4 linked regions of the Homo sapiens genome follow. The protein of the gene in region 1 purifies or fractionates together with the protein of each later gene. This does not show direct contact. Each region holds a gene or a part of one and is shown in the gene's direction. Other genes may lie near its edges.

What was found.
Region 2: the proteins of XRCC4 (region 1) and ALDH7A1 purify together in Homo sapiens (affinity purification with mass spectrometry; 3 studies listed by BioGRID and IntAct, with this or other methods). This does not show direct contact.
Region 3: the proteins of XRCC4 (region 1) and LONRF2 purify together in Homo sapiens (affinity purification with mass spectrometry; 3 studies listed by BioGRID and IntAct, with this or other methods). This does not show direct contact.
Region 4: the proteins of XRCC4 (region 1) and IFFO2 purify together in Homo sapiens (affinity purification with mass spectrometry; 4 studies listed by BioGRID and IntAct, with this or other methods). This does not show direct contact.

The regions. Positions count from the first base shown.
Region 1 is NC_000005.10:83,346,538-83,353,564, forward strand, and holds part of XRCC4 (DNA repair protein XRCC4), read left to right. Parts: intron 1-6,587; coding exon of another isoform or gene 6,588-6,593; coding exon 6,594-6,705; 3' UTR 6,706-7,027.
Region 2 is NC_000005.10:126,578,210-126,585,236, reverse strand, and holds part of ALDH7A1 (alpha-aminoadipic semialdehyde dehydrogenase isoform 1 precursor), read left to right. Parts: intron 1-1,224; coding exon 1,225-1,305; intron 1,306-2,262; coding exon 2,263-2,386; intron 2,387-7,027.
Region 3 is NC_000002.12:100,319,475-100,326,918, reverse strand, and holds the start of LONRF2 (LON peptidase N-terminal domain and RING finger protein 2), read left to right. Parts: upstream 1-4,417; 5' UTR 4,418-4,825; coding exon 4,826-5,504; intron 5,505-5,537; exon of another isoform or gene 5,538-5,730; intron 5,731-7,444.
Region 4 is NC_000001.11:18,953,659-18,960,508, reverse strand, and holds the start of IFFO2 (intermediate filament family orphan 2), read left to right. Parts: upstream 1-3,832; 5' UTR 3,833-4,176; coding exon 4,177-4,841; intron 4,842-6,850.

The DNA.
Region 1 (7,027 bases):
TATAACATTTTTAAGATAAAAAGACACACTTGAAAACATTAGGTAAAGTAAATGTTTAACTTAAAGCTTTCTGAGAGCAGGAGTAACACTTATATTTGTTCTATTTTCCTAACACAGTGAGCTGTTCATAGTGTATAATCAACAAGTACAGTATTGATTAAATAAACAAAACTGTATGTTGAAGTATAAGATACAGATATTAGGTACTGTAAATGACCAGAGGAAATAAAAATTACAAATATGAAATGAAATAGGAACATGGAAAAAAAGTAAGTCCTTGTGGAAGGTTTAGAATTTAAACAGAGCTGTAACTAATGGCTATAATTTCATTAAGAACACCCAAGTTTCTAATTATTTGTTTCTCTCACTTTCCATTAAAACTTTAGATACAGGTTCTCTGAGTTGTTTACTTCAAATTATACCTCTAAGCGTGATTTCTTGGAGAAGGCATGTTCATGAAAAAAATATGATAAATATGCTAAGATATATGTATAAGGATACTAATTGTCTAGTTTATAAGGGCATTTAAAAATTGAACCAACCCAAACCTCTATCAGTGAACTAATAGTACATCAAAATTAAAATCAATGATGAATGTAGATCTAAATTTTTCAACATGAAAATACATCTCTAATATATTATAGAGTAAAAATATCAAGCTGCAAAACTATAAATGTGTAGAATGATCACATTTTTGTAAAAAAAAGGCTGTGAATGTACAAGTAATGCAAAATAGGATAGTAGACATTTGTATTCGTCTTTTTTCACACTGCTATAAAGACATGTCTGAGACTGGGTAATTTATAAAGAAAAGAGGTTTAATTGGCTCACAGTTCTGTAGGGTGTGCAGGCTTATGCTGCTGGGGAGGCCTCAGGAAACTTACAATCATGGTGGAAGGCAAAAGGGAAGCAGACACATCTTCACATGACTGGCAGGAGAGAGAGAGCAAAAGGGGAAGTGCTACACACTTTTAAACAATGAGATCTCATGAGAACTCACACACTATCGTGAGAACAGCAAGGGGGATGTCTGCCCCCATGATCCAGTCACTTCCCACCAGGCCACTCCTCCAACATTGGGGATTACACTTCAACATGAGATTTGGGTGCAGACACAAAGCCAAACCATATCATGCCATCCCTGGCCCCTCCCACATCCCCTTCTCACATTTCAAAACATGATCATGCATTGCCAAGAGTCCCCCAAAATCTTAACTCATTCCAGTGTTAACTCAAAAGTTCAAGTCCAAGGTCTCATGTGAGACAAGGCAAGTCTCTTCGACCTACGAGCCTATAAAATCAAAACCAAGCTAGTTTCTTCCAAGATACAATGGGATTACAAGCATTGGGTAAGTTCTCCTATTCTAAGTGAGAGAAATTGGCTAAAACAAAGGGGCTACAGGCCCCATGCAAGTCCGAAAACCAGCATGGCAGTCATTAAATCTAAAAGCTCCCAGATAATCTCCTTTGACTCCATGTCTCACATCCAGGGCACAGTGATGCAAGGGGTAGACTCCTAAGTCCTTGGGAAACTCTGCCCCTGTGGCTCTCCAGGGTACAGCCCCCATGGCTGCTTTCATAGGCTGGTATTGAGTGCCTGCAGCTTTTCCAGATGCATGGCGCAAGCTGATGATGGATCTGCCATTCTGTGGTCTGGAGGATGGTGGCTGTCTTCTCACAGTTCCATTAGGCAGTGTCCCTTTGAGGGCTCCAACCACACATTTTCTTTCTATCCACACTGCCCTAGTAGAGGTTCTCCAAGAGGACTCTACCCCTGCAGCAGACTTCTGCCTGGACATCCATGCATTTCCATACATCCACTGAAACCTAGGTGGAGGTTCTCAAGCCTCAGCTCTTGCACTCTGCACATCTGCAGGCTTAACACCACATGGAAGACACCAAGGCTTGAGGCTTGCACCCTCTGAAGCAATGGCCCAAGCTGCATGTTGGCCCCTTTTAGCCACAGCTGGAGCGGGAGCAGCCACAATGCAGGGTGCCATGTCCCAAGACTGCACAGTGTAGCAGGGCCCTTGGGCTGGCCCACAAAACCATTCTGCCCTCCTAGGCCTCCTGGCCTGTGATGGGAGGGGCTGCCATGAAGATCTCTGAAATGCCTTGGAGGCACTGTCTTGATTATTAACATTTGGCTCCTGTTTACTTGCGCAAATTTCTGCAGCCTTGAATTCCTCCCCAGAAAATGGGTTTTTCTTTTCTACCATATGGCTAGGCTGCAAAATTTTCAAACTTTAATATTCTGCTTTCCTTTTAAATATAAGTTCCAATTTCAGGTCATTTCTTTGTTCATACAGATGAGAGTAGGCTTTTAGAAGCAGCAGGCCACACCTTGAATGCTTTGCTGCTTAGAAATTTCTTCCACCAGAAAAGCATAGCAAGAGTGACCTCTACTCCAGTTCCCAATAACTTCCTTATCTCCATCTGAGACCACCTCAGCCTGGACTTTATTGTCCATATCACCATCAGCATTTTGGTCACAACAATTTAACAAGTCTCTAGGAAGTTCCAAACTTTCCCTCATCTTCCTATCTTCTTCCAACCCCTCCAAACTGTTCCAACCTCTACTTATTACCCAGTTCCAAAGTTGCTTCTATATTTTCAGATACCTTTATAGCAATGCCCCACTTCTCTGGTTACACACATACTATCACAAGAATAGCAAGGGAGAAGTCCACCCCCGTGATCCAATCACCTCCCAACAGGCCCCTCCTCCAACATTGAGGATTACAGTTCAAAAAGAGATTCAGGTGGGGACACAAAGCCAAACCATATCAACATTTTTGTGTTCTTTTTTATGCTTTTCAGAATTTACAAAAAGTCTAACAATAAACATTTACTACCTGTAAAAATAATAAAACTTTTTTAAGAGTTGTGGAGAGAGTTCTAAATTTACTCTATTGACTTGCCATAGATATAAAAGCTCAATGATCTCCATTCGGGACAACTTTTACTGAGTACCTGTTATGACTAGGCACTATGAACAGGGGTCAAAATCTATTTCTTAAGCCCCTCATGACATCAGAAGGAAATGTAAATTATAAGTGGAGCACCAGGAATCTATTTATCCTTCAGTCTGGTCACTTCAGAGTGGTCCTTTGGTCATATGCTGATTTTTTTAAAACAAAATTGATAGATCTCTGTGTTCTGGTTCACAGTATCTAAACAATGGACACAATTACAGAGATCTTTCCATGTCTGACTTTTTAAATATGATTTCAGCTTTTATTTTAGATACAGGGGGTACATGTGCGGGTTTGTTACAGGGGTGTATTGCATGATACTGAGGTTTAGGATAGGGATCTCATCACCCAAGTATTGAGCATAGTACCCAATAGGTAGTTTTTCAACCCATGACCCCTCCTTCCCTTCCCCATGTAGTAATCCCCAGTGTCTATTGTTTCCATCTTTATGTCCATGTATACCCAATGTTTAGCTCTCACTTATAAGTGAGAACACAGGTATTTGGTGTTCTGTTCCTGCATTAATTTGCTCTGAATTATGGCCTCCAGCTGCATCCATGTTGCTGCAAAGGACATTATTTCATTCTTTTTGGTGGCTGTGTAGTATTCCATAGTGTATATGTAATATATTTTCTTTACCCAGTCCACCAATTATGGCCACCTAGGTTGATTCCATGTCTTTGCTGTTGTGAATAGTGCTGCAATGAACATGCCAGTGCATGTGTCTTTTTGGCAGAACACTTTGGGTTTTTTGGGAGGTATATGCCCAGTAACGGGATTGCTGGATTGGATGATAGTTATGTTTTAAGTCCTTTGACAAATCTCCAAACTACTTTCCACTGTGGCTGAAGTCATTTACATTCCCACCAACAATGTATAAGTGTCCCCTTTTCTCTGCAGCCTCTCCAGCATATATTATTATTTGACTTTTTAATAACAGGCATTCTGATTGGTGTTAGATGGTATCTCATTGTGGCTTTGATTTGCATTTCTCTGATGACTAGTGATGTGTAGCATTTTTTTTTCATATGTTTGTTGGTTGCTTGTGTGTCTTCTCTTGAGAAGTGTCTGTTCATGTCCTTTGCCCATTTATTAATGGGGTGATTTGCTTTTTGCTTGTTGATTTAAGTTCCATATAGATTCTGGATATTAGACTTTTGACAGATGCATATTTTGAGGATATTTTCTCCTATTCTGTAAGCTGACTCTTTACTTTGTTGATAGTTTCTTTTGCTGTGTAGAAACTCTTCAGTTTAATTAGGTCCCTCTTGTCAATTTTTGTTTTTGTTGCAGTTGCTTTTGGGGACTTGGCCAAAAATTCTTTGCCAAGGACAGTGTTGAGAAGGGTATTTCCTAGGTTTTCTTCTAAGTTTTTTATAGTTTGAAATCTTACATTTAAATTTTTAAGCCATCTTGAGTTAATGTTTGTATATGTTGAAAGGTAGGGCAATATGGTTTGGATTGGTGTCCCCACCCAAATCTCATGTCTAATTGTAATCCTCAATCTTGAAGAAGGGGCCTGGTGGGAGGTTATTGGATCCTGGAGACAGATTTCCCCCTTGCCATTCTCATGATAGTGAGTGAGTTCTCATGAGATCTGGTTTAAAAATGTGTGGCATCTTACCCCCCGCTTCCTCCTTCTCCGGCCATGTAAGACGGGCCTGCTTCCCTTTCACCTTCTACCGTGAGGCTTCTCAGCCATGTTTCCTGTACAGCCTGTGGAACTGTGAGCCAATTAAACCTCTTTTCTTTATAAATTACCCAGTCTCAGGTAGTTCTTTATAGCAATACAAGAATGGACTAATACATAGGGGCACAGTTTCAATCTTCTGCAAATGGCTAGCCAGTTTTCCATGCACCATTTATTGTATTCACCTTGCTTGTTTTTCCATTTCTTACTTTTAATTGAGATAGTTCAGTTATCTCTTTTGTCTAGGAGGAGCACAAGCAACTCTAAGACATTTTGGCCAGAGAAAAATGTTTAACGTGTTTTGAGTTGACAATGAAAATGTATATATATAATAATTATACTTTTATCCCATACTATATCATTTTCTCCTCCTTTGGAATATATTTTTAGATATTTAATTCCATGTTACAATAATTATGCCTGTATTTATTGTTAATTTTAACATCGCAAATCCCAGAGGGTAGTACTTGTCATCTTGAATGCATTAATGCCTAGCACCTTGGCACTCCTGTGATGATGTTGTCTGAAATTGGCTTGCTCAGAATAAGACAGAACATGTCCCAGGTCTAGTGGCAGCCAACTGTAGTTAATTGTCTCTAATCAAGATGCCAAGGAGAACTCATTTCTAATAATCTGTGCAACTAGGTAAGGGTGCAGGCTTTTAAAAATACTCATCACCTAAACACACTTGATATTTGGGGGTTTTCATTGGTTATTCTTCTCTGCTGTTAACGAAACTCTTACATAGTTTATGGGGTATTAGCAGGTAATAATAATAGTTTCCAAATTCTTTGTGGGAATTTACAAGCATTTACATTTACATCAACTCATTTCATCTTTAGACCACCTCTAGACAAATACTAATATCTCAGTTTTACAGTGGACAGAATAGAAGCCCACTTAGTTTAAATGACTTGCCTAAAGTTACATAGCTAACATGAAATAGACCTGGGTTCAAACTTGTGTTTCCTGACTTCAAGTCCCATGCTTTCTCAGCTATACCAAGGTGTTGTGACTCTACCCCCGCCTTTGAACTTGGAAATAGAGGGGTATTACCAAGTATTACTGGGTTAGCTCAACCTAATCATAATTGCCCCAGAGGCCACCTCTAATTGATAATATTAAGCATACTTTATTAAGGTTCCATAGAGAACCACTGACAAGGTTTCTACAAGGATATTAACACACACTCCACAGCTTTACTTCTGATTGAGCTCTGTTATTCTCTGGCACAGTCTTCCTAAGACCAATTAATAGTGATCATGGCAGTCAGCCTGTTATCTTAGGATTCAAAGAAAATATCTACATAAATATAGCAGTCAATCCATTGAAGTAGTGACTACAATACTGAACCTGAATAAAATTTAGTTTACTAAATGAAGATATGCAGATTCAATAAATGATTATGGACCAACATTTCATCAGCAACTGCTATAAATGTGAAAAATCATTATTTTTCATATATACACATGATCATCAGACCCACTAAAGGTAATTCATGTGACCAAAACTTTCTGCTGCTAAGAGATTAAAATGCATGTTAATCAGTAGAATTTAAGAAAGCCAGAGTAAAATGTAAATTGTGATGAAATCATTAAAGGAGTAACTTGAAAAACCTTCTATATCCTGGCATAAAAGTGATTATAGCACAGAGGACAGAATATTTTATTTCTTGACCTTGATTATGAGTATTGTTATAGGTTCTTGAATTTTCCTTAGGTCAGAATAGAGACATTAATTCTAAAGCAGTTAGAGAAATTAGTCTCTTTATCTCTTTCCTTATAGTTAATAGCATAGAGAAATAAATCTCTAAACCAATTTGAAACAGGATTTAACTGTCATTTCACTTATGTGTCTCTTCATTTTCTTTTACTCTATAACAGAAGTTTTTAAAAATAAAACTATTTTGATTTTCTTTTCAGTTCTAGGCCTGATTCTTCACTACCTGAGACGTCTAAAAAGGAGCACATCTCAGCTGAAAACATGTCTTTAGAAACTCTGAGAAACAGCAGCCCAGAAGACCTCTTTGATGAGATTTAACAGTCTCAAAAAATACTTTGATGTTCACTAGACTATGTTTTCTATTCATTTCTTTAAAATGAAAAAGGAGAATTTCAAGTCAGCAGCCGCTATTACCGTATCTTACAATTTAATTACATACACAGTGAATTGAAACCATTGTGCAAAATGGATTACACATGTATACAAAGATACGATTTGATGATGACACTGGCACATTATTCTAAACTATTCATTCAGCATGCCTATAATTACATAAATTGTATGAGACTTTTTGTTGCAAAGGACACATTTATCATATTCATTCACACATATTATATGTGATAGCTGTCCAACATCCTGT
Region 2 (7,027 bases), about 43 Mb from region 1:
AACCTCCCCCTCCGGGGTTCAAGTGATTCTCCTGCTTCAGCCTCCCAAGTAGCTGGGATTACAGGCACCTGCCACCATGCCCGGCTAATTTTTGTATTTTTAGTAAAGATGGGGTTTCACCATGTTGGCCAGGCTCGTCTTGAACTCCTGACCCCAAGTGATCCACCTGCCTCAGCTTCTCAAGTGCTGGGATTATAGACGTGAGCCACCGCGCCCAGCCTTAGCTGTACTTTGAAGGAGAGGCAGAATTGGGAAGAACTTGATGGGAGAGAGGGAGTGATGGTCACAGTTGGAGAAATTGTGTCTCATTCATAAATCACATCTCAAACTTTATGTGACATAAGCTGTGCTCTTTACCCCCAAAACCTGATGTTTCCCTTCAAGTCTTCTTCATCCCAGTAATTATACTTCATCTACCTACCTATTTAAGCCAGAGAGCGGGAAGTTATCCTGAGTTCTTTAATTCTCTTCATTTCCTGCATCTGTGTGTCCTGTCAATTCTACTCCCAAAACAGACCGTGAATCCACTTGCTGTTTCCCTTGTTACCACTGCAATCTTTTTTTTTTTTTTTTTTTTGAGATGGAGTGTCACTTTGTTGCCCAGGCTGGAGTGCAATGGCGTGATCTCAGCTCACTGCAACCTCTGCCTCCTGGGTTCAAGCGATTCTCCTGCCTCAGCCTCCTGACTAGCTGGGATTACAGGCGCACACCACCATGCCCAGCTAATTTTTGTATTTTTAGTAGAGACGGGGTTTCACCATGTTGCCCAGGCTGGTCTCGAACTCCTGACCTTGTGATCTGCCCGCCTCAGCCTCCCAAAGTGTTGGGATTACAGGTGTGAGCCACCACGCCCAGCCTCCTGCCATCCTTTTAGGTAAAGTAACTTACCCATTTCCCCTCCAATCTTGCTGTTTTTCTCTGTCTCAGCTTCCTTTTTATTTCCTTTGTCTTTAAAACCCTGATGGCAATTTGTAATTATTTGTTGGCAATTTGTAATTATTTGTTGCCTTTTCTTCTCCTCTGTGCCTTCCAGTAGATATTTGCTCCATGAATGCCTTGCTTCTTATTTTGGCTCCAGTGCCTGGCCATATCACAGTTTTGATGTGATCAAAAGTCTTCTTTGATATGATTGTAATTTGTTCTTTTACAGCACACATCCAATACTGTGTTATAAACATGAATTTATGCTTTGAATCAGACACAAAAATTGCATTCTTTTCTTAGATTCCTGCTCCAAAACGAGGAGAAATAGTAAGACAGATTGGCGATGCCTTGCGGGAGAAGATCCAAGTACTAGGAAGCTTGGTAAAGTATTTTTGTAGTATATACACAATTCTTTGAGTGGACAATAAGGCTGTCATGCTTTTCTATATATAAAATTGTGAGGTTTTTTTTTTTTGAGATGGAGTCTTGCTGTCACCCAGGCTGGAGTGCAGTGGTAAAATCTTGGCTCACTGCAGCCTCTGCCTCCCATGTTCCAGCAATTCCCCTGCCTGAGCCTCCCGAGTAGCTGGGATTACAGGCTTGTGCCACCACGGCTGGCTAATTTTTTGTATTTTTAAAGTAGACATGGGGTTTCATCATGTTGGCCAGGCTGGTCTTGAACTCCTAACCTCAGGTGATCCTGCCTGCCTCGGCCTCTCAAAGTGCTGGGATTATAGGCATGGGCCACCACACTTGGCTAGAAGAGTTTTTAAGAAAAGTAATTTATATTATATTATATTTTATTATTTATTTATTTATTTATTTATTTTTGAGATGGAGTCTTGCTCTTATTGCCCAGGCTGGAGTGCAATGGCAGGATCTTGGCTCACTGCAACCTCCCCCTCCTGGGTTCAAGCGATTCTCCTGCCTCAGCCTCCCGAGTAGCTGGGATTACAGGTGTGCACCACCATGCCCGGCTGATTTTTGTATTTTTAGTAGAGACAAAGTTTCACCATGTTGGCCAGGCTGGTCTTGAACTCCTGACCTCAGGTGATCCGCCCGCCTTGGCCTCCCAAAGTGCTGGGATTATAGGCATGAGCCACTGTGCCCGGTTGTACTTTATATATTTTAAAAATTCTTTCCTTAGAGGAAAGATTAACAAGGTAGACAGGAAAAAGTGAAGGCAATTGTTGTGTTTTAAAATTCTTTGGAAAATGAAACAGACTTTCTTCAGTTTATTACATTTACAAAACATGTTTTGCTTCCCCCTTTCTTTAATTTAATGTTTATAATGTGAATTCTGTTGGAAAAATTCTGCTTGTCGTTTTATATTTCTAGGTGTCTTTGGAGATGGGGAAAATCTTAGTGGAAGGTGTGGGTGAAGTTCAGGAGTATGTGGATATCTGTGACTATGCTGTTGGTTTATCAAGGATGATTGGAGGACCTATCTTGCCTTCTGAAAGTAAGCAATGAAATTAGTTAAGCTGAGTTTTGTACTCTGATATACAGAGCTCCAAAAAAAATAAAATACTCTGGCTATTGACTGTGCAAAAGAGAAATTTCAAGTGGCATAAATATGTGAAAATATCCTCAATCTTTCAAAGAAATGCAAATTAAAACAGATGAAAATGTTAGATCAAGAACCTTTTTGTTTTAAAGATAAAACTTAATGTTGGCAAGTCCACGGGTAAGACACTTTTAACTCATCTGTAAAACGATTTGGAAATATACCCAAAGAGCTCTAACTTTAAAGAGCCCAGTTTTAAGAATCTAAGTAAATAATCTGAAATAAGACAGAAGTTATGTTTAAAGAAGTTCATTGTGGCATCAATAAAAAACATTAGAAATGACCTAAATGTCGAATCATAAGGGGAAAAAATCTAAGCCAATTTTGGTAGACTATTAGCATGTACTAAAAATAATGTTTGTGAAGGTTGTCTTCCCCTAACCCACACTTTTACGGGAGGATTTTATTTACTTATTTTTAAATTATACTAATGTTAATTTTTTTTGAAGAAACGATAGATTCATATCAGAAAATAAGAAAGCAATAAAAGGTTGAAGGATTAAAAGTTTCCCTCCTACCCCCATGACTAAGCCATAGTACCCCATGGAAGTAGTGAATGCTTTCAATTTCTTGTGTGTCTTTTTTATATTTTGTAGGATCTTGCTGTGTTGTTCAGGCTGGTCTCAAACTTCTCTCCTCAAGTGATCCTCCCCTTCAGCCTCCCGAGTAGCTGGGATTATAGGCATGAGCCACCTTCCTAGGCCCTTGTGTATCTTTTTAGAGCACGTACAGCCAAATATGTAGCAAACTATACATTTTTTTTTTTTTGAGATGGAGTCTCGCTCTGTTGCCCAGGCTGGAGTGCAGTGGCGCGATCTTGGCTCACTGCAACCTCCACCTCCCGGGTTCAAGCGATTCTTCTGCCTCAGACTCCTGAGTAGCTGGGATTACAGGTGTGCACCATCACACCCGGCTAATTTTTGTATTTTTGGTAGAGATGGGGTTTCACCATCCTGGCCAGGCTGCTCTTGAACTCCTCACCTCATGATCCACCCACCTTGGCCTCCCAGAGTGCTGGGATTACAGGCGTGAGCCACTGTGCCCGGCCGCAAACTGTACGTTCTGTTTTATACTTTTATATTCAATAATATATCTTGGAAATTGTTTTTTTGTTTTCTTTTTTTGAGACAGGATTTTACTGTCTTGCCCAGGCCAGAATGTAGTGGCATGATCACAGTTCACTGCAGCCTCAACATCCCCGGGATCAGGTGATCCTCCTACCTCAGCTAGGACTGTAGGTGCATGCCACCATACCTGGCTATTTTTTTTTTTTTGTAGAGGTGGGGTTTTGCAGTGTTGCCCAGCTGGTCTCGAACTCCGGGGCTCAGGTGATCTGCCTGTCTCAACCTCCCAAAGTGTTAGGATTGCAGGCGTGAGCCACTGTGTCAGGCTGGAAATTGTTTTCGTATTATTCTATTAAGGGGCTTCCTTCATCTGTGTTTGCAGCTATCTATTTTGTTATAAAGAGACTATAATTTATTTAGTCAGCTTCCAAATGATGTATATGTAGGGCTGTTTTCAGTGTTTTGCTATTACAAGCTGTTCTGTAAGAACCAATCTTATACTCTGAGGTTTTAACAATGAAGATACTAAGATGACAGCAAGAGTAAGAAAAAAAAAAAAGCTGGACAAGATGGCTCACACCTGTAATCCCAGCACTTCAGGAGGCCAAGGTGGGCAGATCACCTGAGGTCGGGAGTTAGAGACCATCCTGGCCAACATGGAGAAACCCCATTTCCACTAAAAATACAAAATTAGTGAGGCATGGTGGCGCATGCCTGTAATCCCAGCTACTCGGGAGGCTGAGGCAGGAGAATCGCTTGAACCCGGGAGGCGGAGGTGGCGGTGAGCCGAGATCGTGCCATTGCACTGCAGCCTGGACAACAAGAGCGAAACTCCATCTCAAAAAAAAAAAAAAATGAGGTTAAGAGTGTAAGCAATTTGTGATGTTTGCAATGTGGATAGAGCAAAACAGGTGACTGTATGTCTGCATTGGCAATGGTGGGATAGAAGTGTATGCTAAAGTGGTAGCAGTGGTTATCTCTGTGGCAGAATTACTAGTAGTGGATTTTCTTCTATTTTTCTGCATTTTCTAAATTTCCATGATGGTTATTAGGTTACATTTATAATAAGGAAATAATATTTTTTAAAAAATCATATTTTTCTCTTTTTCTTGGAATATTGAGTAAATTCCCTACTTGTAGAAAGAGTTGGGGGAGTCTTTTTAAGTCTAATTAAGGACACTTAATGTCCTTAATTAGATATCTAGCAATGATTCCCATTATCCAATATTAATTTTATGTCATTGAACACTTTCAAGAGTTTTTTTCTAGCTAAGAAAAGTTAATAGGCCCACCGTGGTGGCTCACGCCTGTAATCCCAGCACTTTGGGAGGCAGAGGTGGGCGGATCACTTAAGGTCGGGAGTTTAAGACCAGCCTGACCAACATGGAAAAACCCCATCTCTAATAAAAATACGGATTAGCTGGGCATGGTGGCACATTCCTGTAATCCCAGCTACTCGGGAGGCTGAGGCAGGAGAATCACTTGAACCTGGGAAGCGGAGGTTGCAGTGAGCCGAGATCACGCCATTGTTCTCCAACCTGGGCAACAGAAGAAAACTCTGTCTCAACAACAACAGCAATAACAACAATACAGTCAATAAACCTCCAATTTGGGGATATGTACATGTGCAAGCAGGTAACTATTTGATTTATACCTACTATGATGCCTGCCTCACAATTAACAATTAAAATTTTTCTCAATTGCTTGCACATTTTCGTTTGTTTATTTGAGATAGGATCTGTCACCCAGGCTGGAGTGCAGTGGTGTGATTATAGCCCCTTGCAGCTTGGACCTCCTGGACTCAAGCAATCTTTCCACCTCAGCCTCCTGAGTAGCTGGGATTACAGGCACATGCCACCAAGCCCAGCTAATTTAAAAATTTTTCTTGTAGAGACGAGGTTGCACTATGTGGCCTAGGCTGGTCTAGAACTCCTTGGCTCAAATAATCCTCCTGCCTTGGCCACTCAAAGTGTTGGGATTGTAGGCATGAGCCACCACACCTAGCTTACACTTCTATTTTTTTTTTTAAAGCAGTTTACTCATTTATGTAGAGACTTTGGGGTAACTTTGGCTTTATTAATTCAATAAATGCTTATGGAGCATCTATCAGGTGCCGGGTAGTCTACTAGGTGATACTCGAGCTATAAGGCATAGTCCCTGTCCTCAAGGGATTTATAAGCTTATAAATTATACCTTAGAGTGGGAGATAAATAAACAGGTAATTATATCCAGCATAATCCAGCATGGTAAGTAATATGAGGGAGTAAACGGTAGGATGGTGGGCACATAGCTGGGATCCCCTAACCCAGCCTCATGAGTGCAGTCCAGGAAGGCCTCCAAGAGAAGGTTAGCCAAGGTAAGGTCCCAAATGGGACAAAGAGGAGAAGGAGTGGAGTGCTGGAAGTTGTTTTAAAGAAGGAAGAAGCCTGTGTGAAGGCTGAGAGGGTCTGGCTTATTTGGGAGGATTGCATTGCTTCAGCACAGCTGGAGGGTGCAGTGGTAGGGCAGATAGAGTGGAAAGAGAACCTCGGGAAGAGATTTTGTCTGACAAGGAGATTGGACTTTATTCTGAGAATAGCTACAGTAGGTATCCAAAATCCACAGGGTTATAAGCAAGGGGGTGACATCAGGGCAGAGATGGGAGGGCTGGAGAGGAGGAGGCAGGCCCTGCCAGGAAGAGGCAGGCCCTGCCAGGAAGAGGCTGTGCCAGCACTTCATCTCTAGGGATTAAGGTGCCCAGATTAAGGAGGGCCCAGGAGTGAGGTGCTGTGTCTGGTATGGTCCCTCATCCTAGCTAGCAGTGTGAGTGTGGCTAGAAAGACTGATGGCTGGGACAGCCACCTTTCCAGTTGGTCTGTGGTTTTAACTGGGATTTGTGAACCATCGTATTCGTGTGGTATGGTTCTATACTGTCCAGCTGCCTTTAATTAAAATAAACACCTTGTAGGATTATGGGTGACTTTAAAGTTTGTAAGTTTGTATTTAAAATACAATATTTTTGTTTGTTTTTTCTTTTCTTTTCTTTCTTTTTTTTTTTTTTTTTGATACAGGGTCTTACTCTGTTGTCCAGGCTGGAGTGCAGTGGTGCAATCCCAGGTCACTTCAGCCTCAATACCCTGGGCTCAAGCAGTTCTCCTCAGCCTCCCAAGTAGCTGGGACTACAGGCATATAACCAATCACACCTAACTAATTTTTAATTTTTTTTGTAGAGTCAGGGGTCTTGCCATGTTGATCCAAGTCTCAAACTGAGCTCAAGTGATTCTCCCGTCCCAGCATCCCAAAGTGCTGGACATTGTAGGCATGAGCCACTGCTCCTAGCTGATTTGTATTTTTAGTTTCTTATAGTGAATGTAAAGATTTGCGTAATTCATTTTATTTATTTATTTATTTTTTGAGGCGGAGTCTCCCTCTGTTGCCCAGGCTGGAGTGTAATGGCAGGATCTCGGCTCACTGCAACCTCTGCCTCCCGGGG
Region 3 (7,444 bases), on another chromosome or scaffold:
GTGTTTCATTTTGTTGCCCGTTTGCTCCTTTTTCTCACCTTTTGAGTTGATATCTGTATCTTCTTTTTACCAAGATAAGAACTATTCACTAGTTTCTTCTCTTTGTCTTCTTACTACTTTTGGGGTTTATTCTGTTGGTTTTTAATCCCCAACTTTTTGAATTAGATGTTTAACACATTGCTTTTTAGTTTTTATTATTTTTTAACACAAGCATTTAAGGCTATAGTTTTCTGTGAAATATAGCTTTAGAAGCATCCTATATATTTTTTAAAATTTTAATTTTTGAGTACCTCTCTTTAAATCGACACATATTTAAAAGCAGCCCCAATGAGGTATAATTGCAATACAATAAGATGCATATATTTAAAGTATATAGGCCAGGTGCAGTGGTTCATGTGTGTAATCCCAGCACTTTGGGAGGCTAAGGCAGATGGATCGCTTGAGCTCAGGAATTCGAGACCAGCCTGGGCAACACAGTGAAACCCCATCTCTATAAAAAATGGTTTTTGTAATAAAAAAGTATACATTGTGATAAGTTCTGACACACAAATACACCCATGAGAACATCGCCACAATCAAGGTAACAAATGTATGCATCATCCCTAAAAGTTTCCTCATGGATCTTTGTAATCCCTCTTCCCATCCCCACATGACCACTCATGTGTAGTGTAGATTCTATTAGTGTAGATTCACTCATACTTTCAAGATTTTTTTTTTTTTTTTTTGAGGCAGGGTCTCACTCCTGTCGCCCAGGCTGCAGTGGTGCAATCATAGCTCACTGCAGCCTTGACCTCCTGGGTTCAGGCGATCCTCCTACCTCAGCCTCCTGAGTAGCTGAGACTATAGGCATGTGCTGTCATGCCTGGCTAATTTTTTGTAATTTTAGTAGAGAAGGGGTTTCACCATGTTGCCCAGGTTGGTCTCGAACTCCTGGGCTCAAGCAATCTGCCCGCTTTGGTCTCTCAAAGTGCTGGGATTACAGGCATGTGCCACCGCACCCAGCCTAAGATTTTTGTATAAATAGAATAATTTATACATACGTACTCTATCTTGCTGTATTATTTCACTCAGCATAATTATTTTGAATTTCATACATGTTATTTGATACATTAATAGTTCATTCCTTTTTATTTCTGAGTAGTTTTCAATTGTGTAGAGAAATCATAATTTGTTCATTCACCCGTTGAAAGACATTTGAATTATTTCTAGCTTGGGGCTGTTACAAATAAAGCTGCTATGAAGGTTCATGTAGAAGTGTTTGAATGGACATATGCTTTTATTTCTTTTGGATAAATACCTAGAAGTGGAATGGGTGGTTAATATGATAAGTATACAGTTAACATTTTAAGAAACTGTAGTCCAAAGTGGCTGCACCATGGTACACTCCCACTGACAATGTGTGAGAGTTCTGCATATGCCCTGTATTTGCCAGCACTCAGCATGGTCAGCCTTTTTAATCACAGACATTCCACTAGGTGTGCAGTACTAACTGCTTGGGGTTTCATTTGCATTTCCCCAGTGGCTCATAATGCTGAGCATCTTATTTGCCATCAATATGTCTTCTGTAATGAAATGACTGTTCAAATCTTCCACTCACTTTTTAATCCAGTTCTGTATTTTCTTATTGAGTTCTTGGATTTCTTTATATATTTTTGGTTCGTACTTTATCAGCTATGTGATCGGCAAATATTTTCTCCTAGTGTGTAGCATGTCTTAGCAGTGTCTTTAAAACAGCAGAAGTCCTCAATTTGATCCAATTTATTGATGTATCAGTGCCCTAGAAGGAATACTTTTAAATTGGGATTTGTTTTATGGCTCTAAGATGTTCTATATCGGTAAATGTCCCATGTGCACTTGGAAAGAATGTGTATTCTGCTATTGTTGGGTGGAGTGTTCTATAAACATCAATCAGATTGAGTTGGTTTGTAGAATTGCTCAAGTCTTCTATAGCCTCACTGATTTTCAGTATACTTGTATTAATTGTTGAAAGAGGGGTGTTTTATTTTTAAGTTCTGGGGTACACGTGCAGGATGTGAAGGTTTGTTACATAGGTAAACGTGTGCCATGGTGGTTTACTGCACCTATCAAACCATCACCTAGGTTTTAAGCCCCACATGAATTACTTATTTTTCTTCATGCTCTCCCTTCCTCGGTCCCACCGCCGACAGGCCCCAGTGTGTGTTGTTCCCCTCCCTGTGTCCATGTGTTCTCATTGTTCAGTTCCCACTCATAAGTGAGAATATGCAGCATCTGGTTTTCTGTTCCTGTGTTGGTTTGCTGAGGATAACGGCTTCCAGCTCCATCCATGTCCTTACAAAGGACATGATCTTGTTCTTTTTATGGTGAAAAAGGGATATTTAAATATCCAACTATAATTATTAATTTACCTATTTCACCTTACAGTTCTATCAGTTTTTGCTTCAAATATTTGAAAGCTCTGTTATTGGGAACACACGCGGTTAGGACTATTATGTCCTCTTGACCAACTAACACCTTTATCATTATGAAATGGCTGTCCTTTCTCCTAGCAATGTTCTTGGCTATGTAATAGACTTTGTCAGCTATCAATATAGTCACTCTAGATTTATTTTGCTTAGAGTTAACTAGAACATCTTTTTCCATCCTTTTACCTTTACCTTATTTGTATTTTCATATTTAAAAGTTCTTTTTTGGTAGGCAGCATATATCTGGGTCTTCCTTTTGACAATCTTTGCCTTTTAATTATGGTATTTAGACAATATTTAATGAACATTAACCGATATAATTGGGTTTAAACCTGCCATCTTGCTATTTGTTCTCTATTTGTTTTATCTAATTGTTTCCTTCCTCTCTTTTTATGCCTTCTTTTGGATTAATAGAGTTTTTTTTAACAATTTCATTTCATCTCTATAGGCTTTTAAACTATAGCTCTTTGTGTTATTTAGGAGGTTGCTTTAGGGTTAGAGGACACATCCTTAACTCATTACAGTCTTTCTTAAAGTGACATTATACCATTTCACATATAGCATTAGAACCTTACAACAGTATCCTGCCATTTCTCCTCTACCTGCCTTTGTGTTATATTTGTGATATATTTTATTTCTATGTGTTATAAACCTCACAACACACTAACATTTTTGCTTTAAACACTTCTGGCTCTCAGCAGGCATACCTCCGGCAAGCTTCTTTCTGTTCTCTTGCTAGATATTTGTCTAAAATAAGAACAAATAGGATCTGAGATCATAAGGTTTCACAATCTTTACTGTATGGTCTGTGCTCTGAAGCTTTTTCCCCATTGCTTCCTGATTGTTGGTTGTGAATTTGATGGATAAATGACCCTCAAATATAAGTGAATTGTTATTCTATAAAGAAAGCAGATAAAAATCCAAACAGTGATTGAAAAAGTGAATTTGAAATAATTCAGTAATGAAAAAGAGACCCAAACAGTACACTGTTATCAATTAAGTTAGGTAGACAGCTGGGGGAAATCCTTCATGGAAAAGGAGGTGGGTACTCTGCATTTGTTTATTGTAGAACTAGAGGGCTGGCCAAAAATTGCCCCTTTTTCCCTTTTAGGAACTGGTCTAAAATGTTCTCTCACTTAATGAGGCATTTCTCCTTTCCCAAAGCCAGATGTGGTCGAGGTATTGTATATTTTCTTTAGCCAGCAGTTTTAGATGTAGAAAAACCTCTCCAATTTTTTAAAAAAATTTATTCTTGAAATATGAACAGTAGTATGAATTCTAGAATATTGTAATGCATTTTATTGTATTCAAATACACAGGATAAAACAGATACTGTGACGACAGGAAGAAGGGAGCAGGCTACATAGGAGAAATACATAGGCTATATAGGAGAAATTATGAACCCGGTTAATACGCACAGAGGATTTTAATTTAAACCTTGCTTGTACACCAACGGAGCGTTTAGCTCCCTCTCCCCAGCAACTTATGTCTGCAGTACTCCATACTAGGGCACCCTTTCTATTTCTATTCTAATTCTATTAATTAGAATTCTATTTCTAATTCTATTTCTGCTTCCTAATCAAGGGCACAATACAATTGTCCACTTCTCGAATCCCTCCTCCTCCTGGTATCTGGTTCTCTTGGCCCTCCACGTTCTCTGTTAAAATGAGTTCTCAAAGGCCTCAGCCTAGAGTTAAGAGAAGAAGCTCGCTGAGGCGGGGCCTCTGGGTGCCCACTTCAGCCTCCCCAGTCATTTAGGACAATTTCCTAAGTCGAAGCTAGAGATGCGTGATGCGTTTGGTGACTTTTCCTGGGTTCTTGCTTAAGCGGAGCCACAGGTTGTGGGGGCGGCCAGGCCTCTGGGGAAGAGCAGGTGCCGCGGTGCCGGCGCGCCAGCAGCCCGCGGCCAAGGCCACCTGCTCCCAGGGCCCCGGCACCTCTGCGGGGAGGCGGCAGGCAGAGGACGCGCGCGCAGTCGCGCAGGAGCCCTCAGGCGAGTGGGGGAAGCATCGCAAGAGACGCGGACCTGGAGCGCGGTCACTGCGTTACCGCAGCGACCTGGGTTACCTAAGCCGGCGGGACTGAGAGGCCGCTGCGCGTGGGCAGGGGCTCAGATTGCGCCCGCGGTGCCTGTCCCGGCCCCCACCCCGGAACGATTGCAGCCCTGCGGGGCTCGCCGCCCACACCGCGCTGAGGACGCTGCCCAAGCCAGGCGCCCGCCCCCGCCCGCGGTCTCAGCCGCTCGCAGCGCGCCGCCCCCAGACGCGCGTGGCTGCTGGCGAGGGCTGAGACCGCGCTCCCGCCGGCCAGTTCCCAGCAGCAGCGCATCCTCCCTGCTCCGCGCCTTCGCTCCGGACCCGCGTCGTCGCAGCCCCGCGGTGATGAGCCCCGAGCCGGTCCCGCCGCCGCCGCCGCCCCAGTGTCCTGGCTGCGACCGCGCGGAGCCGATCGCCCAGCGCTTAGAGGAGGGCGACGAGGCCTTCCGCGCGGGCGACTACGAGATGGCAGCCGAGCTCTTTCGCTCCATGCTAGCCGGGCTGGCGCAGCCGGACCGCGGCCTGTGCCTGAGGCTGGGGGACGCGCTGGCCCGCGCCGGCCGCCTCCCCGAAGCCCTGGGCGCGTTCCGCGGCGCCGCGCGGCTCGGGGCGCTGCGGCCGGAGGAGCTGGAAGAGCTGGCGGGCGGCCTGGTGCGCGCCGTGGGCCTGCGCGACCGGCCGCTGTCCGCGGAGAACCCGGGCGGCGAGCCCGAGGCGCCCGGCGAGGGAGGGCCGGCCCCGGAGCCCCGCGCGCCCCGCGACCTGCTCGGCTGCCCGCGCTGCCGGCGGCTGCTGCATAAGCCGGTGACGCTGCCCTGCGGGCTCACAGTCTGCAAGCGCTGCGTGGAGCCAGGGCCCGCGCGGCCGCAGGTGCGGCGCGTGAACGTGGTGCTGAGCGGCCTGCTGGAGAAGTGCTTCCCGGCCGAGTGCCGGCTGCGCAGGCTGGCAGGCCAGGCGCGGAGCCTGCAGCGCCAGCAGCAGCCGGAGGCCGCGCTGCTCAGGTGCGACCAGGCCCTGGAGCTGGGTGAGTCGGCTGCGGGGCGGGTCCGCCTCCCCTACACCTGTCCGGCCCAGCAGCGGGGTGGGGAGCTGGCCGGTGGGCCCGAGGCTTTGGGCTTTCGAGAGCTTTGTCTAGGCTTAGGGGTCACTTTGCTTCCTAAGGATGGGAAGGTGAAAGGTGGGGGCGGCCACACCCTGCAGCCAGGAGAGGCCAAGTGCACCCCACTGGTTTTGTCTTTTCCAGGATGCTGGTAAGTTTCCCGCGGCCCCCGGAGCAGCTCTGTAAGGTCCTGTAATTGCTTTTCGGCATCTTCTGCGCTGTTGAGGAGCGGGGAGGATGACGAAATATTTTTGCTCATCCTGAAGGAAAATGCACATAGCTGACACACTACAGGCGCAGAAAGGGGTGCCTTGTGCTGGGGCAAGATTTGCTTTGGGTTTCAGCTAATATAGCCAGGAAGGAACCGCCTCCACTCTGCTGTAATCACGTCAAACGCTCCGGCTCTAGCCTGCTCTCTGTCTCAGAGGCCATCATTAGATGTCATGGCGTATTTAACTTACTAGATAGTTACACTGACTAGTGTGTGTAGTTTTAAATTGTTCATTCAGTCATTTCCTTATTTATCTGAGGCCTAAGGCCAGCAACAGGCACTCTCCTGCCTTCACCCAGCCACCACCTGTTAACACTATTTAGCTGAAAGGAAGACCAAACTTCTGTCATCGTTTTGGCTTTGACATATGAGTATGCGCTCTATTGGCAGTTGTTTTGGGCAGTGTGAGGAGGACGGTTTGCTTTCTGGTTTCACCGGTTTTATAATAGGGCATATACGATTTAAAGCACTAGCCGAGAAGACTTGTTGAATCTCTTGTTACTAAAATAATCTACTACCATGCTGTAGTCAGTGCACATTTTATTTTAAACTTAGGATTAAGGTTTTCCCTTTTAGAAGGCACAAATTATAAAGTGACTAGCATTCAATTTTGTCTTGCAAAAAAAAAGATCCAAATATTGAACAAGTGTTCAATATCTGTATCTAAATTGGGATATTCTCTGCTGGAATAGAGCACTTAACTCAGCTTTTCTAACGAGTATTCTGTAGTTTTTGCAACCAACATATCCATACTTTAACAGGCATATTTTTTAGTTTTCTACTAATTTAGGTATTGATGGTGTTAGAGCAGCACTATCCAATTAGAACTATTGTGTAAGCCACACATAATTTGGGATTTTCTTGTAGCTACATTAAAAGGGTGAAAAAAGCAGGTGAAATTTATTTTAGCAATTTTTAACCCTATACATCCAAAATATTATTTCAACATGCCTTCAATTTTAAAAAATAATTGAGATTTTACTTTTTTAAACTAAGCCTTTGAAATTCGTTATATATTTTGCATTTACTGCACTACCCAATTCCAACATCAAATTTTCATCAGAAATACTTCATCTGTATTTAGATGTTGGAGAAGATGTAGAAAAATGAAAACTGTGATATTTATATGCTGCTAATGGGACTGCAAATTATGCCCCTGAAAAATATTTGGTAGTATCTACAGATGTTAAGCCTGTCCTTGGCCAAATAGTTTCAAAGAGGTATATGCATATGTGCCCCCAAAAGAATGTGCAATTAGATACAAGAGTGTATGTCATTGTTAGAGATACCCCAAAAGTGCACACAACCCAAATGTCCAGTAAGAGCAGAAGGGGTGAATATATGATTATGTTTTCATAGCATACTATACAGAAAGAAAATAAATCAACTACAGTTACAAACTACAATGTGGACAAATCTCACAAACATAATGTTAAGTGGAAGAAGCCAGACTCAAGCATTTTTACTATATGATCCTATTTATCTGTAAGCCCAAACAGACAAAATTACTGTAGGATGTTAGAAGTAAGGACAATGGTTACCTTGGGGGGATGAAAAGGGAATAGTGATTGTGAGGAAGTATGAGAGGGATCTG
Region 4 (6,850 bases), on another chromosome or scaffold:
CTGGGACCTGAAGGATGAGGAGTTGTTAGCAGGTGAAATGGCTGGGGAGTGGGGCAGGAAGAATAAAAGTCATTTTCTCATTCATTTCTTAATTCTTTTATTCATTCATTCAGCAACTGTTCATTGAGAGCAGTTATGCCCATTTCCCTGATGAGGAAATAGAGCCTCAGAGAGGTAAAGTGACTTAGATACAAACCTTAGCCAATCTCTTGTCTTAAAAGCCCACCTTTTTCCACTCCCCACTCTTGCCTCCAAAAACAGTCTGGACAGGTTAGACACACCGCTGTGACTTTGAGGGTCAAGGGGAGGTACCCTGCCAAAAAACAAAAACCTAATTATCCTTGTTTAGTGAGAGGAGGCTGGCGTCCCCCACAGGGATGTTCCTTTGTCTGTTGGAACTCTTCCGCTGCCTTGAGGACCCACCTTTAGCCCCCTTTGGATCTTGAATGGGGGAGCCAGCCTGCCAGTGTCTGGGGTTAAGGGGAGGAGACCACTGAATTCATTGTCTGGGCCAGGGAGGACCTACCATTGGAAAGGGAATGGGACCAGAATTCCAGACCAGGCTTTGATACCAATTATTCAGGAGACCTGGGTCAGTCCTTACCTCTCTGTGGTCCTCAGTTTTCTGGTCCCTGAAACAAGAAATCTGGGCTGGCTGTATCCTGAACTATAGGACTTCTGGCCTCAGATGCCTCCAGATTGATATGGGCTGGAAGTAGGGTGACACATTTGTTCTGATTTGCTCGTTCTGATTTACTTTCCAGGTTTTAGCATCAAGAGAAACCTTCTCAGTTCCTGATAAATTGGGATGGTTGGTCACCCTAGCTGGAGGACTGTTAGGTTAACCTAACCTCACATTTTACCCACAAAGAGCAAGACACGCAGCACCCGCCTTTATTCCTATGTGGCCACGAAGCTATTTTCAAGCCATTTTGTTTGCACATATCATGTTTCTAGGGTTCAGCTGAAAACCCTCTCAGGTCCAGCTACCACTTCCCTCAATTCCTTCAGATCTTCTGGGCTCTGCTTGGCCATCTCCTTTTCCCCCCTCTGCACCCACTCCCATGCCTCAGGATGGTCTTTTTTGGTTGTCTCCATCAGCTCCCCTGGAGCCCCTTTAGCTCCTTCCTCTGCATTTAATGCAGGATTTGTGCCGAAGCAGGTGCTCCACAAGTCATCACGGAAAGTCTGAATATCTCCAGGGCCCAGGGCAGGGCTGCCCCCACCCTCAAGGAGGGCTGCACACCCCAATTCCAGGGCAACTTTGTTGGAAGGACAGATCCTTCCTGGAAGAGGTTGCAGGGAGCCACTCCCCAGGTGTGACTTCTTAACCCTTTCTCTTCCATGGGACCACTCAGGCATTGGGTGGAGCCTGTGGACCCCTTCTGAGAATAATTTTTTTAAAAAGGCATTAGGATTACTATGAAAAGTCATTTTACTAAAAATAGATATCAAACTATTAACAATTTCTCATATAGTAACATACGTTCTCTTTTACTAATACATTAAATAAGATTTAGTGGTCGGTCTAATATGACTTTAATTTCACAGTTCTCGTAGCTTAGATGATATCTTGAGATGTTTACAATAACTGTAGTGTGTTACATAAATACCTGTGATTTCTACTAGTGACAAAATCACAGGGACATCTACTTGCTGCCTACATTCATAATCAAAGGATATGTTAAAAACCATTGGCTGGGCACGGTGGCTTACGTCTGTAATCCCAGAACTTCGGGAGGTCAAGGTGGGCGGATCACCTGAGGTTGGGGGTTCAAGACCAGCCTGACCAACATAGAGAAACCCCCATCTCTACTAAGAATACAAAAAAATTAGCCGGGTGTGGTGGCGCATGCCTGTAATCCCAGCTACTTGGGAGGCTGAGGCAGGATAATCTCTTGAACCCCGGAGGTGGAGGTTGTGATGAGCCAAGATCGCACCATTGCACTCTAGCCTGGGCAACAAGAGTGAAACTCTGTTTCAAACAAACAAATAAACAAACAGACAACAAAGCCTTTAGAGATTAGTGAGGCTAAAGGTATAACTTTTGTCCACCCCTGTGTCATGGACCCCCCAGAATTCTATCCTCAGTCCTCTTGGGGGTCCATGAACCTCTGCTTCAAGGCAAAGGGGTTTTGATTCCTTAGGTTAGATAAACAAGAACATCATCAAGAGACGAGAGAACGAAGAGTAAAGGGCAGTGTCCAGACTGGGTTGGGTTAAGCAGAGAAAGGTTTCTAGATGAGTGAGTTTCAGAGCTGGGTGTTTAAGGTGAGTCCGTGTTGGCAGGAAGCAAGGAACTGTGGTTGAGGGAAGGAACTATGGGGAAGGTTTGCTTTTGTGGCTAAATCAAAAACACAGCAGACTAACATCACAGCCACATCACTCCAGGGCAAGCCCGTGTCTCCTTTGTCACCAAGAACACCAAGGCATTGTCCATGTAAGACAGTGTGCCTGTCCTCAAGCTTACATACAAAGAGACAAAACAAACACAAAAGTTAATAACAAGACAAAAATTAAACTGCTAGTAAAAAATGCAGTCGGAAGTATCTGAAACATGCCACATATCTGGTTAAGTGCATACAATGCAAGCCACAGGCGTTCAAAGGTGGGGGTTCAAGGTGGGGGTCACCTCCCCTCTGAGGTTTGCGGTGAGGACCAAATGCGGAAATGGACACGAGGCCCGAGGCCAGCATTGTGGAAGGCCGGTTAGAGCATGCACTTTGGACCATTGTGGCTACTTAACGTCTCAGTGACCTTCTCTGTAAAATGGGGATAATAAATAAGTATGGCGCCTGACATATACTAATGTTTGCAACACGGTTCAGGAGACACCAGAGACTGGAGAACTTGGCCTTTAACGTGGTAGGTGTGAAAACATTTGAATGAATGAATGAATGAATGAATGGGTCCTCGGGTTGCCTCGGTCTGCCCCAGGCGGCCCGCTAAGCCCCATGTCTGTGAAATGAATCCCCAGCTCTCGGGGTCAGCTTCATCTCAGCGTGTGGGTGTGGGTGGTGGGGAGGTGCTGAGCAGCTCAGCAGAGGCGAGGCCCAGGCCGAGTTTGTGGGTGTCATCCCGGGAGGGTCTTGCTCGGCCTCCCCAACCCCCATGCTGCTCGGCTCCTCAGTGGGCGGGGGAACCAGCGGGCTTAGCTGTGCCCGGGCCGATCTCGAGAGGACAAGGCCCGCAGCTAGCATTCGAGGAGCCCACCCCCGGGTCCGCAGCGTGGGGCACGGGCGCCCTCTTATCCCCGAAAGGTCGATCTGGGCCTCCCCAGGCTAGAGTGGGGGTGGGGTGCCGATGCACCTTCGGATACTGTGGTCCCCCAGCCCTTCCAGCCGCGGTCGCGCACATCCGAAGGAATTTGGGGCCAGGGGCATTGCGGGCAGAGAGGACAGAGAAACGGAGCCCTCTCGGCAGGCGACGTGGGAGAGGAGCGCCCTAAAAAGTGGAAAGCGAGCGTTGCCGAGGCTGCTGGCCCCTTTAAGAGGCCCGGCTGGCTCTGCGGCGGTTCCAGCTAACCCGGTCCCTGGTGCAGCTCTGCGGTCCGGGTCCCCCAGCAGAGAATCGGCACCCGGCGGGGAGGCAGGACCAGACGCAGGAGAGGGCGTGGCCCCGCCGGGGAGCTGGGCGGAGTCTATGCTGCGGAGAAAGCGGGAGAACCCGGAGGTGGGCGGAGCCGAGGGTCTGTGGGTGGGGCCCGGCGCTGCGGGCCTCGTGGGGCGGAGCCTCGGGCTCGGGGAACGCCGCAGAGGGAGGAGGGGTGGGCGGGGCCGCGGCGGGGGCGGGGCCAGTGTCTGCAGTGGGCGGGGCCCGCCGCAGAAGGGGCAGTGCCGGCCGAGAGTCCTCTGCGTGCGGCTGCCGCGGCCCCTCCACAGCGTCTCTGACAGCCCGGGCGGTGAGACCCGCGACCCTTCTGGCCCCGCGCAGATACCGCGGCCTCCACCGCGTCCCGAGGAGCGGCCGAGTGCCCTCTCTCGCCTCGGCGCCCGCATCCGGGGCCATCCGTCCTGCCGTCTCTGCGGAGGCCGCATCTGGCGCGCATCTGGAACCGCCCGGCCGGCCGCGCTGGAGCCCGCGCCCACCCTGGCCCGGCCGCGCCGGGAGCCCTGCCCGGAGCTGGAGCCGCACCTGGAGCCGCGGGCCCGGGGCCCTGAGCCGCGCAGCCGGCGCATGGTGAACTCGCTGCTGTTCGGGGAGATGGCCTTGGCCTTCGGCTGCCCGCCGGGCGGCGGCGGCGGGGGCTGCCCTGGCGGGGGCGGCGGCGGCGGCGGGGCAGGGCCGGGTCCGTCGCCGGTGACGGCGGCGCTGCGGGACGACCTGGGCTCCAACATCCACCTCTTGAAGGGGCTCAACGTGCGCTTCCGCTGCTTCCTGGCTAAGGTGCACGAGCTGGAGCGGCGCAACCGGCTGCTGGAGAAGCAGCTGGAGCAGCAGCAGAGCGAGCGCGAGCGGCGGCTGCGCTACAAGACCTTCTCCCGCGAGCAGGCCGTGCAGACCGGGCCCGAGTTGCTGCGGCCCCCGGCGCCCGGCGGCGGGCACGGCCTCAGCAGTGGCGCGGCGGCCGGCGCCAACGCCAATGCCGTGGCCCTGGGCGGCCTGCCCCCCGGCGGCGGCTCGCACCCGCAGCACTACGGCCGCCTGCCCGGGACCATCTGGAGCTACACGCAGGTGCGGCGCACGGGCGGCGGCGGCGTGGAGACCGTGCAGGGCCCCGGCGTGTCGTGGGTGCACCCCGACGGCGTGGGCGTGCAGATCGACACCATCACGCCGGAGATCCGCGCGCTCTACAACGTGCTGGCCAAGGTGAAGCGCGAGCGCGACGAGTATAAGCGGAGGTGAGTGGCCGCCCCTCCCCCGCCGCCCTGGGACGGGGCGCCCAGGTCCAGGCTGCCGCGGAATGCGTATGCGGGACGGGGGCCGGGCGGGCAGCTGGTACTGGCAGGTGGGCTGGAAGCTGTGTTTGCAGAGCGTCTTACGTACGCCAGGAAGGCCCAGTTATCTAGATCCCAGGATGGGGGCGGGCGCTGGCTACCGTGGGGGCCACCTCGATGCTGTCACTGGTGAGGCACATTGTTTTCTAGGTGACATAATAACTGTCTGTGTTTTATGCGATCTCATTTAATTCTCAGCACAATACAGCGTATTGTGTAAGGCAGTCTTATCCTCATCTCGCAGATGAGGAAACCGAGGTGCAGAAATGCTAAGTGATTTGCCTAAGGTGGCTTGGCGAGTAAGTGGTGAAACCGGGATTTCAACCAGAGATTTTAACCACTCCTGGCTAGTCTGTCTCCTAGCATAAGTATTTTTACCAAGGAAGTAGGAAATATGCTCCCCTCCCTCAACATATGAAAAGAAAAACTCTAACCAACCCACTGCCTTTTTATTTCTTGAATTAAATGAGATCACGTTTTTGAAAATGGATGGATCTGCCCCTACCCCCTGGGGCCAGTGTCTGCCGTCTTGCTCCAGCTCTGTAAGGTCCAGCTTGCTGGGTTGGATAACCACAACTACAACAGACTGCTCACAAGCTTTTATAAAATGCCTCCTTTCATCCCTCTTCTCCCCACTCCCTGAGTCTCATGGTTTATTGAGCCCTAACAAACTCAGCCTTAAAAGCCCCCAGGAGAAGATAATGTTGGGCTGGAGACTGGACATTGAATGGACTGAGACCACAATCTCTGGCTAGAACTGGGGTCCAGACTCTGCAAGACTGGCCAGTGCATTCCTGCCTAGCCCAGATTCCCCAGCTGGGAAACTGTCATTGCTTCCTGTCTGCAGTCTGGCCGACAATACTGTCTGCTTGGCTTTCCGATAAGAGGAGAGGGGTCTCCTATCCTCCTCCTCTTCCCATAAGAGAAGAAGGGTCTGTCTTTGGCATCTCAGGCCTGGCTGGGGAAGGGGCCCTCTGGCCCTGGCAATCGCTGTTCCAGGCACAGGCAGCCTTCCATTCGGAGCTATTGGCTCTGAACTCCAGGGCTTGGAGGATGTACTGAGAAGGACCCTTCCTTCCATCTCTAAAGGTCTGTCCAGGGAGCTGGGCATAGGTCTCCTTCCGTATTCTCCCATTGGACAGGCTAGCAACTGGGTAGGATTCAAATGCCAGCCTTATACCTGCTGGTGAGATTATCAAATCACTTGAAAGCCTGTTTGCTCATCAGAGAAATGGGAATAATAAAATCTGCCCACAGTTGCTCGAGGAGACAGCAGGATGGTGATGCTCTTTGGGAGGTATAAAGTAATCATGCTGGTGTTATTAAAGATGATAGGCACTTTGTCAAGCTAGCAGGGAGTAGAAATGCTGAGAGTCCTCAAGCTCTCTCATGTGGCGCCTAGCTTCCTGGGGGTAGGTCTTACACTCCACTGGGAGACGGGCTTCTCTCCTGGGTTACCTGTTTCTCTGGAGGACTTGAGAATGGCCCGCCTGGTGCCTTGCCACAGGGAGGCCACCTCGCCGCCCCTCATGGTCAATGTCATTGGGGCAGGCTAGGGAAGCAGGCACTTGCTCTCAATGGTGAAACTGGGGAGGGATGGGCCGGGCCCTCCTGTCTGCCACTGTTGATTGTGTTGTCATGCCTCAGGCTTGTGTTGTGTTTGTTTTATTGTGTGTGTGCTTTTTGGACCTGGCTACTAAGGTGATGGAAAAACCGTGCCCAGTCTTGGAGGGAGATGGGTTGGCATTGAGCAACGATCTATTCAAGTTGCACCCAGGGCGTGGGGTGTGATGTCAGCTTCTGGCGCTGGCCTGGAATGAGACGGTGCTGCTGAGACAGGTGGAGTGCGGGCGTCTCTCTTCCCGCCCTTCTGGGATGCGTGCACACCTTGTCTTCCATTTATTTTCTGAAGT